Linked DNA regions of Homo sapiens: region 2 is reported to be linked to region 1. The links are microRNA targets in miRTarBase. Many come from high-throughput screens and were not tested one by one. Region 1 holds a microRNA gene; the other region holds the end of a gene's coding sequence.
What was found. The annotated mature microRNA hsa-miR-1468-3p reads AGCAAAAUAAGCAAAUGGAAAA and lies in region 1 at 5,016-5,037, shown strand. An mRNA with a match to its seed (bases 2 to 7 or 8) in the 3' UTR can be bound and repressed. Matches are read on the target gene's strand: a 7mer-m8 pairs with bases 2 to 8, a 7mer-A1 pairs with bases 2 to 7 and ends in A, and an 8mer does both.

Region 1 (8,195 bases):
TCCCACATAATTCCAATGTGCAGCCAAGATTGAGAGCCACTGTGCTGAAAGAACTATTTCACACTTGCTCCTCCTTTCTGTAACCTCCACTGACACCTCCCTCCATAATCCTCTCTCAGCTTCATGGAGAAAAATTTTAAAAACGTTGTAGGGGTATTTCCTTCCCTTTTATTCACCAAATCTATAGGCTCACCATCACCTGCACATTTACCCATTTTCTCTTCTTGTCTGCTAGAGTTCAGGAAGTGATTTTGCTCCTATCAAGGCAAATCTTTTTTGCTCTGGAATCCATCCCCTCTCACTTTCTGAAGGACTTTGCTCCTGCAGGTATCCCCTCTCTTAAACCAGTGCTTCTCAAACTTAAATGTACATGCAGATCATCTGAGGATCTAGTTGAAATGTAGATTATGATTAAGTAGATGTGGGATGGGGCTTGAGGTTCTACATTTCTAACAAACACCCAGGTGATGATGTTGTTGTTGGTTTGTCGACCATGCTTCAACTAGCAAGGTCTTATGTGATAAGCCTTTCCTCTCATTCCCATCATTATATCAATATGTCCTTATTTGCATGTTAAAAGAATAAAAAGGACTTCCTTGACCTCACATCCCCTTCCAAATATTGTCTTGTCTTATTCCCTTCACAGGAGAACTTCTCAAAGTGTTGTCTACACTCATTGTCTCTACTTGTTTACTTTTGCTCACTCTTTACTCCCTTCATTCACTCCTCTACCCCTCCAATATGATCTTTCTTACTCTCATGCCAGTGAAGCTACTTTTGTCAAAATCACCAACCTTGTTGCCAGTACAATGGGCATATCATTTAACTTTTCAACATTTCACACACCTAGTCTTGAAACATTCACCTGAATATGATTTATCCTCGTTTTATTTTTACCTTATTGGCCACTGCTTCTCAGTCTCTATAGATAAATCTCTCCTTCTCTGTGGAACTTTTATCTAATTGTTAAGAACCTCAGGATTTGTCCAGGGCCCTTTTTAAAATCTATGTTCCCTCCTAGATGATTACATCCTGTCTTGGGACTTTAAATATCATAAATATGAGGAAGACTCCAAAATGTGTATGTCCAGCTAGATCTTCTCTCCTGAGCTCCAGGCTTTCATATCTAGTTGTCTTCCTGACATCCCCTCTAATAATATAACTATTGGGCAGCTCACTCTCAATACATTCAAATGGAAGTCTTGAGTTTTTTCCCTCTTCAAACCCGAGCTTATGCCAGTCTCCCCACATTAGCCAAAGTGCCACCATCTACCCAGTATTGCAAACCAAAAACCTAAAGTTTTCTGGAATTTCTTCATTTTTTTCCCTCACACTCCACATCCAATCCATCATCAAGCTCTGTTATTTCTATCTCTAAAATATATCTCAAATCTTTTTACCTCTGTCCATCATCTTTACTGTTCTTCCAGTCCAAGTCACCATCATCTTTCCCCTGTAAAAACAACAGTTTTTTAAAAGACAATGTAAATCTTTTAAAAATGTAAATCGGATCAGTTAATTCTCCTGCTTAAAAATCCCTCAGTTCCCACGCCTCTCTCCCTGTAGTTCATAGAATAAATCCAGATTGTTTTACTATGGTCTTCAAGGCTTTATATGACCTGGCTTCTGTCAAATTTGTCTCCTATCATTCTCCCTCTTTCTTTCTAGGTTTCAGCCTCATTGCGCTTCTAATTCCTGCAACATTACATGCCAGTTCAATCCTTTGGGCTTCTGTACTTTCTGTTTTCTGTGCCTGGAATACTTTCCCCCTACCTCTTACATGGCTGGCTCGCCTTAAGCCTTTAGGCCTTAATTTGAATACCTTCTCCTTGGAGAAGCCTTCCTTATCTAAACTCCCTTTCCTCCCCCAGAGTTACTCTATCCCTTCACTTTCTTTCTTTTATAGCACTTATCACCATCTGTATTAGCACATTTGCTTACCAGATTTAGTTGTTTATTGAATAGAAATGAGGGCATGAACTCTGTCCATCTTGTTCACTGCTATGGCATCAGTGCTTAACATACTATACCTGGCACATTGTAGGCACACATATTTATTGATTTTATGAATAAATAAAAATAGGTAGTAATGTATGTACGAAATATTGCTTTGTAAAGATAAGAGTTTATAATATACACGTTAGTCTTGGGCCTCCAATATTTGGAATTATAGTAGTTGTGTCCTTTCAGTATTTACCCGTTTTCACTACTGCACTCCACTCACTGGAGAATCAAGGGTTTGAGTTTTTATCCCAGCTCAGCCACTAACTTACTTTGTGACTTTGGGAGCTCCTTCCATTCCCTGGGGCTATATCTTCTCATCAGTAAAATGAGACTGTTGGAGGAAATAATCTTTACAATTATTAAGGCCAACTCTGATATCTATGGATCAGTGATTCTTTAACACTCTTAGGTACACAATTAGTGTGTTCATTGTATGACTGGAGAACCTGAGTCACAGATAAGCTGGGACATGACTGTCTTTCTCTTCATTTTGCTCATGGCCCTCTACTAGAGTGGAGAGCTGGTGCCTGGCTAGGTACCAAAGAGGCTTCTGGGAGATCACAGGACTTCAAGAGAGTGAACACAGAGATTATGGAAACCCCTTTTCCAGATTTCTATTGTCCTGTCCTGAATTCTTACTGGCTTCCAGGCCCTGTGCTAAGTACTTTCCTTGGACAAATTTATCAAATCTTTGTAACTATCTTGTCAGCCCTATTCACAGATAAAGAAACTGTCAGGGCATAGAACATTGAATAATCTGCCCAAGTAAGTGGCAAAGCCAATAACTGAATACAATCCAAGTTGTTCTGACTTCAGAGATTATGCCCTACCAACTACATTATGTCTCCTCTAACTACTCATATGGTTCTAGGCAAATAGGTGCTCAAGACATAATGACTGGATTCAACAGCATCTATTTACACCTCTGGGATCAACACGTTTTTTGCAGGAGTCTCTAGGCACCTGTTTTTTGCAGGAGTCCCTAGGCTTTATATTAACACTGGCCTGTTTGCATCCAGATCCATTCTCCACTCTTCTCCTGAAAATTACATTTGTTAGATTTCCTTGCTTTCTCACTTCTTTTGTCCAATGGGAGACATGTACAGGAGATTGGTGGCTAGGAGGAAGGGAGAACCCAGGGTATTTCTCCCACCACCTGTATCAGAGAGGTGTTTTCTGGTGGTAGCTGTATTCCTCCATGGCTCCAGCTCCTCTTGAACAACTCTTCCATTCATGGCACCTGCTTCCAATAGGCTGTCCAACCCATGATTTTAGCTTCTGCATGGCTTCATCTGTTATCCGTCCATCCCTACGAGTGGTAGCAGCTTTCTGTGTTTGTTAAATGCTAGGTTGCTGCATCCTCATCCTCTGTCTGGCTTGTTAGCTCTGTAAGTGTCATGCATTAAATGCTCGCAGTTTAAAAGACCTAGGGTGGTTTTTATTTTCCTGATTGGACCATGACCGGCACAGATACTTTCCACAATTCCAGGGCTACTCACATCACATAAATTGGTTTATATCCTTCAGAGCACATATTACAATCTCTAAATATTTTTGTTTGTTTACTTATTTATTGTCTATCTCTCTTCTGTAAGTAGATTGTAAGGTCCATGAGGAACTTTGTCTTGTATCCTGAGCATCTGTCACAATGCCTGGCACACAGGGGCTAAATGATAATGTTGAATGAATGCATCCATCAAAAAATTCCAAGTTTTTATTGGGTATTTACTATGTGCCAGTCACTGTTGTAGAAGATGCAGAAATTAGTAATTCATTGCCACTGCTTCAAAAACACATAATGCCATTTAAGTGAAAGGGGACAGTAAAATGTTCATATGACCATTGTGTTAGTTCGCTAGGGCTGTGCCATAACAAAATACCACAGACTCTGTGGCTTAAACAACAGAAATTGAGTTTCTTATAATCCTGGAGGCCAGAAGTCTGAGAACAAGGTATCAGTGGGGTTGGGTCTTCTGAGGCCTCTCTCCTTGGCTTGCTGTTTAGATGACTGTCTTCTCCGAGTCATCAGATTCTGAGGTACTGGAAGGACTTCAACATATAAATTTTGGGGGAAAACAATTCAGCCCGTAACATCCAGGAAATAAAAAGATCATTTTTAATCGAGACAGTGAAATCGTAGTGCTATAGGAATCAAATGAAAGATGACAAAATCAGGGCCTGGAGGTATTCCTGGAAAGCTTTCTAAAGGTGGTGTGCCTGGTGCCAGATCTTGAACAGTCATGACAGTTTGAATGGGCTGGTTGGCAGGGGAGGTGCATCCAAGATACTGAGCATGAAAGAAGGCCCAGAGATGGGAAAGTGAGAGAACATTGTGGAATCACTGATGCCTGGGTTACCAGACTTGGGAGGGAAGTTGAAAGGTCATCCAGGGCAACCTCCCATTTGATTCAGGAATCCCTTGCCAAAGGGTCATTCAGCTTCTGCTTGTACACCTCCCATGATGGGGTGCTCATTAAGGTACTGCTTCTATCTTTGCCCAGCTCTGCATGGACAAAACAACAGGTTGGATGAAGTGCAGAAGTTGTGCTAAAAAGAAGAGGACAAATAAAGTACGTGTAACAGGCCAGTGATGTCTTCATGTCAATTATCTCCAGGAACTTCTTTCTAATATCATACTGTAACTCCTTTTACTTTGGTTGCAACCTCTGTTTTTGCAATTCTGTCTTTGCCTGACCTGCTCTTCTAGTCAGGAGCCTTGGATTCTTGTCTTGTTTGGCTGTGCTACTTTAAGCAGAAGTCTTTCAATCTCTGGGCTTCAGTGTTCAAGTCTGTAATGGTGGGCAATTAAGAATCCTTGTTGTGTCCATCTCATAGAGTTACTGTGAGGATTATAAGGGATAATAACAGATGTTAGTGTGACTGACAAAGTCAATTTTTAGCCTAAGCAAAGGTACCAGCCTGTGTTGTGTTCCCCAGAGTTGGGGGAATCATAAAGAGGTGGGTGGTTTCTCCGTTTGCCTGTTTCGCTGATGTGCATTCAACTCATTCTCAGCAAAATAAGCAAATGGAAAATTCGTCCATCAACAAGCTACCTTTCATGTTCCTAAGGGCATGAAGGAGAAGCCTGGAGTGGTGTGTGTGAGATAGAAAGGGAGAGATAGCCGAAAGAGGCTTGGAAAGCCGCAGAGGGTAAAGTCGAGGATTTATCTTTTTTTTTTCTTTAATGTGACCTTATGCCCCTTCCCTCTTCCAAACCTCCATTTATTTATCTATAACTTGGAGATACTAATGGCTGCCTCTACAGGGTTGTTCTGAGAAGTGAAAGTAATGCAGATGAAAGCTCTCAGATAGTACACAAAGAGAGAAGACCCTAGGGGAGTATGCAGAGGGAGGGTGGGGGAGGGAGGCATGAGAGTGCTGGCTTGGCTCCACTGGGGCAGGATCTTATTATTCTGGAGATTGGCACAACACCTCTGGTAACTTTGGAAAGGACTTTCCGCTGACTCGACACAATTGGGAAGCCCCACAATAAACAGCATCTAACTCCAGCGCAGCGGGAGGCAGGCAGAGGTAGCAGCTGCCTTCTCCTGGGCGGGCGGAGGCTATTCGCCCCCATCCTCTCCCTGCACCCCACCCCCACAGTTCTCAAGCCTTGGTGGGGGACAAAAGCAGCCCATTAGGACCCCCCCACACTCGCACCTCTCCCTGCCAAGACCTCTAGGAGCAGCAGGGCGGAGAGACAGAGCCTGCCGGTTGGCATGGAACAAACTGACTGAAGGCGAGGTCCGGGGCGGAGGGGATTGGGTTGTAGGGCTGTGGAGGAGGGGCGGCGGAGGGGGCGCTGGGGCTCTCGCTTGCTTCAGCCCAGCCCTTCTAGTCAGCCCGCGACAACTCGCGCCAGCTACGGGGCCTCAGAGAAGCCGGACTTCGCAAGCACCATGCAGTGGATAAGGGGCGGATCGGGAATGGTGAGTGCATGTAACCTTGGCTTCCCTTGCTTGAGCCTCTCAGTCCCCCAGCCCCACCTCCAGTTCCTCCAACGAGCCACAAGGCAGTGAGCACCCTGGCCTCTGCCCACCGCCCTAGCCGCCGTCCTTGAGACACCAGTGAGCTTGCTGTGGCCATTTTAGGAGTCCCTGCTAGCCTGCCTGCCCAGGAAACCCCCCTACCATCCCCCTCCACTTTTCTATCTCCCTCTGAGATTAAGGTGGAATAGGGGTGGGGGCCAGATTATGTGCCCAGGAACATCCCAGGGGTCACTTGGGAGGCCAGAGAGGGAAGGGGGATGGCAGAGGGCTTCTCTGGAAGCAGTGAAGCTCGCAGGAGGCTGACAAGCTGGCACGGGGTTGTGGGGGGAGGGGACGGTCACAAAGCCTGGAATTGTGGAGGGGGCCTTATGGGAGAGCTGCATGACTCCCCCCTGCCCCCAACTAGATTTTCTGCAACTCCTTTCCCTGGTCAGCCCCAGAGCATGAGGGCCAGAGAGCCACTCTCTCTCTCTCAGGAAGCTGCCTGAGGGAGCCCTAAAGCCCTTCCTTGTCCGGGCTGGGGTCACCCTGTCCACACTTGGGGCTTTGTCAAGGAGAGACAGCTGCAGAAACCCACATTCTGGAAATGGGCTTGGGCCACAGTCAGTTAACAGAGCTCTTCTCTCCCTCCCAAGGAGTGTGTGCTTGTGTGTGTGTTTAGTATAATCCTCCAACAGTTCATTTTATGCCATGGTGTTCCCTTCTCCACCTGGAGACCTTGGAATGACTTCCTTTTGCAGAGAGGAAGTGGTGGCTGCATTTTGATGCCTCTCTGACTTAGCCAGGAGCAGCTTAAGCCTGGTTAGGGCCTCTGGGGAGTGGGAGGCCCCCATGACTTTGTCCTCAGCTGGGAGGCATAAGCAAAAGGGCCTTAGAAGGCAGTTAGGTTGGGTCAGCAGGCACTGATGGCAATAGCCCACACTTCTACGCTGCCACCCATAACCCGCAGATGAAGGAAAGTAGCCTGAAGTGGTTGGGCAAAAACTGATATTTAACTCCATTTTTGCTTTCATTGTGGAGGGGAAGAGGGAATCTGGTGTGGGCTAGGACTATATTCAGAGGGGCTGTCCTCTTCCCTTCCTCAGAGTTTTGTTAGATCTCTGTTTCAGTGGTTCTTAAGGGCATCCGGTTCATATGCCTATGTGCTGGGGCTTCAAAAGACCCTTCTTCCCAGACCTCCCTACTTCCCTGAGGTCCCATTAAAGCTGCATCAAATGTTTGTAGAACCAGAAAAGATTAGAGCAGGTAAAGACCTTAGAGTCCTTGCTGTCCAGCCAGGAAAGCTGGGATCCAGAGAGTGGGAGAGACTTGCCCAGGACCACAAACTCCTTGGAGGCAAAGCTGAGTCTAGCACTTGAGTCTCCTGACTGCCACAGTCCTTCCCCACTGCTCCACCAATCATTTGCTCAAATGGTGCTGAGAGGGGAAGAAAGGAACATAGTCATGATCTTGGGAAAGGACTTTCTTCAGGATGATCTAGTGCCATTAAATTTACCTGAAAGCCGGGCGCGGCCGCCCACGCCTGTAATCCCAGCACTTTGGGAGGCCGAGGCGGGTGGATCATCTGAGGTCGGGAGCTCAAGAACAGCCTGACCAACGTGGAGAAACCCCGTCTCTACTAAAAAGACAAAATTAGCTGGACGTAGTGGCACATGCCTGAGGCTGAGGCAGGAGAATCACTCGAACCCAGGAGGGGGAGGTTGCGGTGAGCCGAGATTGTGCCGTTGCAGTCCAGCCTGAGCAACAAGAGCGAAACTCCATCTCAAAAAAAAAAAAAAAAAATTACCCGAAAAAAATCCATGCCAGTCCTGGCATTTCTGGCAACTGGGAACTGGGTCAGGGTGAGACTTACTTCCTCTCCCAAATATATTGAAGTATAGGGGCCCAGAGCCACTCATTGACAACAGGTTAAATTAATGAAGAAATTTGAAGTTTTGCCAACAGTGTATGAGAGAGAAAAGGGTGGCAGACATCTTGTGGAGACTGTGTAATTAAGGATTGGTTGATGGGGAAAAATCTCATAATATTCTTAGAGGACTGAGACAATGAATATTATATGATGAAAGCATTTATTTAGCTGTTTACCAGAATTCAAGAGATGGGAGTAGTAAACTCTATTCTTGCCTGAGAGGCAGGGAACCTCTAAGTTTTGGCCTTGCCACTAACAGAAATCCTTTGGGCCTCAGATTTCTTACCTATTAA
Region 2 (8,195 bases), not on the chromosome of region 1:
TCCTACCCACAGCCGTAAAGAAGACATTAAAAAAGGCTTACTGAAATTATACTATATAGTATTTTTTTAGATAAGACACACACACACTTCATGTCTATGACTTGTTTACCTAAGATAAAAGGGACCTAATTCAACTTACTTTAGCAAACATACTACTGCCAATTAATCATTTCTTAACCCTTTTAGGCCAGTGATACATGTCTTGATGTGATTGGTGGCCGGGACACACCTGGAGCTAAAGTAGCTCTATGGACTGAACATGGGCAATTCAGGCAGAAGTGGAGACTGAATAAAAATGGAACTATCAGCTCTTATCTCAGTGATCAACTTGTCCTTGATGTTAAAGGTGGGCCTTTGATGATACCCAATGTTGTGTCCCTGGATATTAGTTTCAGTTCCAAATCTCCTCATTTTGGGTAAAGGACATCCTTATGTATAAGAGAAATGTTAAGTCATTTAAAATTATGCTTGAAGAAAATTAAGATAGGCAGTTTTACAAACAAAACAATTAGCAGAAAAAGCCAAACAACAAAGCTTAGGGTTTTTGTTCATTAGTACAGTTGTAAAACTTTCATTTGCTACGTGAACTCAGAACAGTTCTAAATTTCAAGCACCATAAACCATGAAATGAATGTCATCTGTTTCTTAGAAACATCTCTAGCTTTTTGCCAGGAATTGCCATGGTCCTTAAAAACCCTCAGGTAGAATTTATGGTAGGTATCAATTAACCTTGTTTTTGAATTCAGCAAGGTCAGGGCCAATATTATTCATGGCTGTTGCTTTAATTGGGTTAGTCACAGTTTTGTTGGTGTAGAAACAAAAACACAGTACCTGACATTCAGCCAGAGTTCTCTCAAGAGCACTTTGTTCTAAAGAATCACATTAAGGCACGCCACTTATACAATCATGTATTATACCTTTTAGTATTTCAATTTGAGTCATAATAAGGTCCAATTTGAGGTGAATAATGGCTAAGCCTGTTCAAACTCAGCTTCCCATTTCAGACTTCTTTGTAAATGACACATTCATCCACCGAAATGGTGAGCTGAACAGAAGCTTGTGAAAATTGTGAAATTGCTAAGCACCTGCCTGAACAAATAATCTTTTCTTTTGGAATTTCTATTTTAGGAGGAAATTATTGTGACAAGACTCATGTAATTGTAAATCAGCCCCTGGAGGGAGAAGAAACACAGAAATGGGACATTGAAATATTGTGAGAGAATCAACATCCCTAGAAAGATCCCTAGAAAGAGCAAAGAAGGAAACACATCTGTCATTGTCTTGTGGACGTGGAAAGGAAGCTACTGTCCTCACACTCCTGGATCACTGAGCAGAATGAACATTTTCTCCAGCCTCTGAGACTATCGCTCTTAACCATGGAAAAGCTCAAAATATTCTTGCCATTACTCAGTGTTCCTATAAAGAAAATATTATGATATCTTGGAAAGGTTCTATTCCTGATCTCCAGCTGTGGTGAGCAAGTTTCCTGAAGTGTTTATTTTCTCTCATATCCACCAAACGTGAATCCTGTTCCTGATGGCCCGTTATTGGACACTGGTGATGCTATTATCCTGTATTATTTATTAATATCCTACCTAGATGCTTGTATGAGTACAAAGCATAAAGAAACAGATTTCTATAGGTCAAGTCATACTTTTGCAAACAGATGAGTAATTTTTTAGCAACACCTGAAAATATACTAAACTTTCCTAGATAAACTTTAAGGTTTCTATACTGAGGCTTTTATAATGAACGCACCTCGTTAAGTATTTATACTTGTAACTAACCCCAGGCAGGGACCTCAGCTTTGTTAGGAATAAGGCACAAGAAGTATTTTCTGTAGCTATTGTTTCCTCAGTCCTTCAAACTAAAAAAGTACAAATAAATAACCTATGGCCAAACTTGCACTGTTACGTGTTAACCAAGACATCCCTTTAGGTGACAAGACTCTATAACAGTGGTTACCTGTCTCCATGTTGACACTTCATCCTAGATTTAAGGAGAGGCATCAATTTTTTTTTTTTTTTGCCTCAAGAGAAATTTCAAATATCCAAATTAAAACACAGTAGCATTTGAACCTTGACCTTACCATCTCTTTAAGTAAACGTGGAGTTGATTTCTCTACTAAATAACAGAAACCTCAGTTTTTCACTCCCATTGTAAGTAACTTTTATTTAAGTAAGTAAAATCAGGTAGGAAATCACCTTTGACTTAGCTTCCAGTAGTCATTACCACCTTTTACTGCACAATTCACAAGCATGTTTTCCTGGTGAATTGGACTGAAAATTACATTTTGACAACTTTTTTTCCTTTTATCCCCAACTTTTGCCAGAAAGCAGAAAAATGCTCTATTTTTATAAAGAAAGATTAAATTCTCCAATGATATTTTAAAAAATATCAACCTACATGCACTTTAGAATGTAAAATAACAATGACTATTTTAAACTCGAAGACCCACTATTTTGAGTATTTTTTATAGACTTTAAATACTGGGTTTTTTTCCTCCTTCAATCTCAGGCTTTTCTCCATCTTTTAAGCAGCCTCTGTAACTCCCTTTTGTCCATAGGTGTTGCGTGCCTCTCATCTGTGGGGAAGTATTATTTAATAAAATTTATGTTACAGGATAACTTTATTTTAATGGGCATGGGCTTGTCTATACACAAAGGTATGTATATTTTCATTATAAAAAACCAGTTTAAAATTTTTTCTTATTTTAATTGTTTGAAATTTTTCTAGAGCCAAAGAAGCTCTTTAAAGAAGTTGTTTCTTCCAAAGAACAAAGCCAGGTTAATGACATTCAATTCTAAATGATACATTGGAATTGTGCCTTTTCTACCACACTGGATTAAATAAACTTGTCAAAATATGGTTTTGTCATTTTCTGAGACACTTGGTAATTTGCTGTTCTTTCTTTCATGTGCCCGTTAGTACATTTGGCCAACTGACCACCTGTAACAGGGAGGTCTCATGTTTGTTAGTAGATACGCAGGTAAGGAAACTTGAATTCATCCTCTCCTCGGCTCAGGTCTTTGCTTTTCTTTTAATATATGCATATAAAATAGTAGGCATTTGATTCTGCAAAGGCACTAGACTACTTGAATTAAACATTCTGTCCAGAGGGATAATACCAGGCTTTCCTTTTCCTCATCTGTAGTAAGTTTCAGGTCCTTGACAGAAATAGCTGGACTATTCCAAATTTGCTTCAGTGCATCCAAATGTGACAAAGGGAAGCGAAGTCCATGAAACTGAAAGGATAAATTTATTTGTCAAAATATATGTATACTACTTATGTCATTGAAGTAGCATTTTCCTGTAAATTTATTCTCCATACATCATTATTTTTGATACCCCTCATGAGTATTTTAGACACACTACAATTAGATAACATAAAAGATGCCAACTTCTATATAAAAGGCATCCTAATTTATGTAGTAAGTGATATTAGTAATTTGAAATGTTTTACATTATACCATTCCTATAAGGCTACAGGTCCCAGCTAGTATGTCTTAAAACTGGTGTGCATGTATCACAGAAATGTCTGACTTAATCATCCCCATGCAGGAGCTCTGTGAGTAGTGCAAAATGGTTAAGTCCACAGTGCAGCCATAAAAAGCATATTACCTGTAAATCAAAAATAATCAATTCTTCCCAACCACCACCCAAGTCACAGGATAGGCATTTGTTTTCAGTTGAAACAAACCTCTGTTTCCTCCTCATTTCCCATCATGTGTGTCTCTCTACTATTCTTTAAGGAATGATAGATGTACACCATCTTTTCTTGAGCTTCATCCTTTGGGGAAAAAATAAATGCATTAGGCCATCAACAACACAACACTGAAGGTGTCAGTACTAGGAAGGTTTTCCAATAGGTCAACACCAAAAAAAATTTCAAAAGCCTTGGTGCTCAAGTGAAATTTATTGAATACTGTAAAGAATCCTTTTGGCAAAAAGTGACGGGTGTGTGCATCCACACAATGTCTATACTTCATTAGTCACCACAGGTTACTATTTGTATGTGGCAATTAATGGGCATTCTAAGTTGTTAAAACAGCTGGAGTGCTACCTGGAAGAGCATCTTCAGGATTTAATGAAAAAGCAGTGATTTATGTATCAACTTATCAATGAAATCCTCAGTTTTTTTAATCATACCTGCACTATCTTTTTTGAATAAAAAAATCTGACATTTCTAGGTATAAACTGACAATTTATAATCATGAAGTCATTAACTCCTGAGAAATACCAGCTGTGTGATCGATAAAAAACTCCATTTCAATTACACTACCCTCCCAAATGGTCCCTATCTCCCTTCACTCCCCATGTTACACAGTGCAGTTTATTGTCTCTTCCAGAGCCTTTAGTCATTCTTTGTCACCTCTTAGATAAGGGCAAAAAAATCTTAGCCTAGCGTACAATGTCTCAAACTGACTGGTTATCAGAATCACTATTTTTTTTTTAGACAGGGATGTAGGAATGTGTACTTTTGAGGATGTATATATATATATATATATATCTATTCATGTATATTCATATATATATTCCAACTCTGGCCCTGACGGCTGGAACAATCTGGTTATCGAGACATGTTGAGTGCCCCTCTCATCCCCCTTGATCATTCATGGGATAGCTCCTTAGAGAGCTGATTAGGAGGAATGAGGTGGAGCCATATGGTATGAGATCGTTCCAAGGTCTTTAGGACTGTACAGGGAGCTCTATCAAAACATAAATCCAAAGGCTCCAAGACCAGATGAAACCCAGGAATTTATAATTTTAAAAAGCTTTCCAATTGACTCCATGATCAGTTAGCCAGTTTGGGGAATCACTGGGCTAGGAAGCAAAATTACAGAATATATACTTTGTTCTCCATAATCTACAGGATAGAGTTTAAGGAGATGCAACAATATCCACAAAACCACATAGAAATATAGATCTGCACAGTGTGGAGGACTGGGGCTGAGAAACTCAGGAATGAGGTCTGTGGCTGTCCAAGCAAGAACAGTAAGGCCCGAAGTAGGATGAGAAGCAAAGACCAGACATTAATCACCACATAAAGGGGATGAAGGAAGGTTCTGTGAGGATGAGGGCAAGAAAATATGGAATTGGAACTGTGAGATTTGGTCATCATCTGACCTGAAGAAATGGCATTAAACTGAATGCAGGTGGATTCCTAAAGAAGGGCAGAGACCAGTGGTTAATCTAATAACCTGAGGCCTCTGATGAAAAACACCCTGAGAAGACAGGAAATCTCCTCCTCTTGGATACTCACAGATTGATCTTGATCCGGCAGTACTGTGAGGACAATGTGGTCTTTAAACTGCAGTCTCACTACACTGTCCAGCCTCGGTAACTTTCCACCTAGAAAACCCCAAAGAGAGAAAGCCGACCTTCAAAAAAGGAAACAGGCAGATTCAAACTTGCTTATACATACACATAGGAAACACATTTACTAACAATTTACAGGTGAATCCAAACATGGCATACACTCCAACTGAAGAATTTGCTTACCCCAACATTGTACTGATATTATAGTTCACATCATTATGCAGCTCATTCTTACAGTGAAGACAGACATAGATAAATAATGTAAGTTTATAAGTACAATAAATAGACAAAAATAATACCATCGAAGTACAGTGGCTATCATAGCACATAAGGCTGTGGTGCTTTCTGCACAGAACACTCACTCCTCCAGGTTCTGTCCTCTACAAGCTTCTCGCTCAACATATGGACTCTGGAAGTACTACCTGAGTTCAAAATTGCACTACTCCACCAATTATTAGGTGTGTGACCCTGGTCAATTATTCAGTCTATGTAAGTCAAGAATAGTATCCTATAAAAGCCATCTAATAAAGTCCACAGAAAATTTTTTTTTTCCAAATTGGATTTAACTTAGTGGAACAATACCCAATAAAAACAGACTAGCCTTACAGGGTCATCTGCGTGGGGAAGGAGTCGTGAGGGATCATCACTTTATTGAGTATAATGCCTAAGATAAGGAAAACACTGAAGTAGTCTGGGCCATAAGCTGGTGCATAAGCAAACTGTTCTGCTAAAGATTAAACCATGTGCTTGTAAAACATTTGCTATTTTGAATAGATACAATCAAAAACAAATTCTAAGCTTCCTCCAAAGACTATGATAAAAATGTATATAGAATCAGTGTTGGAAGGGACCTTATAGATTATCTATCTCAGTGGTTCTCTCTTGGTCATAATTAAGAGTTTTATTAAAGTTAGTAAAAAATACTCTTTTCACTCAACCCTGAGAAAGAACAGCAGCCAAAAAGCTGGCCTGGCACTCACAGCTAGGTCTTTGTGTTCTCCTGTTGAACACAGGCAATTCCACAGAATGCTAACATCAGAGATCACTGTCACCATGATAGGTCAAAACAAAACACCACCACTCCGTACATACTCATGTCTGGACTCAGGCAAGGCAAGAACATATTCCAAACCACAACACTGACCGAACATCCCCCTACTCTGGCTAATGAGTGACCACTTCCGCTTTACCATTGATAACTTCAGCCTCATACATTCCTCCTGCCTACCAGATAACATTTAGGAGACTTAATCATAGAATCCCTTCCATTTCCTGACAGCATCCAATCCAGAGCAAAGCCCTGCTTCCTTGAACCCTCTCCAAAATCACCTAACATACACCTGAGTCCTATAAGTCTTTTCTAACACCGTTTTACTGAGATGCCCTGCAGTTCTCAATGGTGTGTGGTCTTCCCACTGCAACAAGTCAATAAATCCAATTTCGTCTGAATTCAGGAGTATGTTCTTGGTGGTCTTTGCTATAGGATACTGACATCATCCATCTGGAAGTCATCAATGACATCATCCATCCAAAAGTATGTTATATCATTTGCAGCCTAAATCTGTCATAAATTAGGCACCTGTGCCTTGGAGAAGGTTGATGATAATCTTGGACATTTCTTGAATCTCACTGGCTGATGGTAACAATTTTACCCATGCTATGATTTGGATGTTTGTCCCATCCAAATCTCATGTTCAAATTTGATCCCCAGTGTGGAGGTGCAGCCTAAGGGGAGGTGTTTGGGTCACATTGTGGGGAGCAGATCCCTCATGAATAGATAATTCCCTGGGGTTGGGGGCGGTGAGTGACTTCTTGTTCCATTAGTTCCCATGACAGCTGGTGTTAAAAAGAGCCTGGCACTTCTCCTCGCTCTTGCTTCCTCTCTCACCATGTGTTCTGCAAATGCCAGCTCCCTTTCCCCTTCCACTGTGAGTAGCCTGAGGTTTTCTCCAAATGCAGATACCAGCACCATGCTTCTTGTACAGCCTGCAGACCATGAGCCAAATAAACTTCTTTTCTATATAAATTACCCAGCCTCAGGTATTCCTTTAAGCAACACAAATAAAGACAACCCAACCCTGACTTAATTCCAACAAGATTATTTCAATGTTCAAATTTTGAAAACTTCCTGAAGACTATGAATACCAGAGTACCTATAAATATACATATTTCTCACCCAAAAGGACAGGGCTCTTATTTCCCATCAGGGTGGGATACAAGTTCTTTCCAAATGACTTCTAAGATACAGGTTGCTAAAGGTTGAGTGCAGCACATCTCGTCTGCCCATATTCACTAAGGATGGATGTGGTCCACATTAACACGAAAGCACTTCATACTTTCCATCTGTTCAAAAAGGAGCCTACCCAGAAAAACCGTAAACATCCTGCATTAGCCTCTGACCACCCAGAAGAAAACAGCAAGCTCCACCTGGTGTTGACAGCTCTGCCCCATCTCCCGCAGAGTAAGGGGGGAGTCTGTGCATAATAAAATCCTTCTTCATGTCTGAGGAAAGCAGTTCTTTGGTGCCCTCCAGCCGGTCTGCAAGTGTCCTCAGGAAGCCACTTAATCGTCTTGTAGCAACAGTTGTGGATTCCACCTGCTAGGAACACAGAAGTGAGTCCTGGCCCAGATGCCAGCAGAACTTACTGCCCAGCTCAGTCTCCACAGTAGACTGCAAAACTGCCAGCCACCGGGTATAGACATTAATCCATGTCATTCCAAAGGGGAAGGGACAACCTGAGCCCCTAAGAATGATATCTCATCATTTCCTTATAAACACTGTTAATTCTAAGCTGCCTATTGTTTGCAAAAAATTTTCAGAATTTTGCCTAGAAATAGAGATCCTTGGAAATATGGTACAGTCTGAGCTCTGCCTT

Region 2: miRTarBase lists CRYBG3 as a target of hsa-miR-1468-3p. Seed matches in the 3' UTR shown: 7mer-A1 at 1,655-1,661.

What each region holds. Positions count from the first base shown.
Region 1 is chrX:63,782,854-63,791,048 of GRCh38, reverse strand. MIR1468 (microRNA 1468) reads left to right here and starts at 4,962; the gene lies at 4,962-5,047. ARHGEF9 (Cdc42 guanine nucleotide exchange factor 9) reads left to right here and starts at 5,835. Exons shown (of 10, transcript NM_001353921.2): 1 at 5,835-5,933. The coding sequence starts at 5,904.
Region 2 is chr3:97,942,098-97,950,292 of GRCh38, forward strand. CRYBG3 (crystallin beta-gamma domain containing 3) reads left to right here. Exons shown (of 22, transcript NM_153605.4): 21 at 187-346; 22 at 1,129-2,887. The coding sequence ends at 1,217. RIOX2 (ribosomal oxygenase 2) reads right to left here. Exons shown (of 10, transcript NM_153182.4): 7 at 7,747-7,918; 8 at 5,264-5,352; 9 at 3,701-3,790; 10 at 1-3,245. The coding sequence ends at 3,087. Among named protein-coding and RNA genes, the nearest start is that of RIOX2, 26 kb to the right of the region's middle.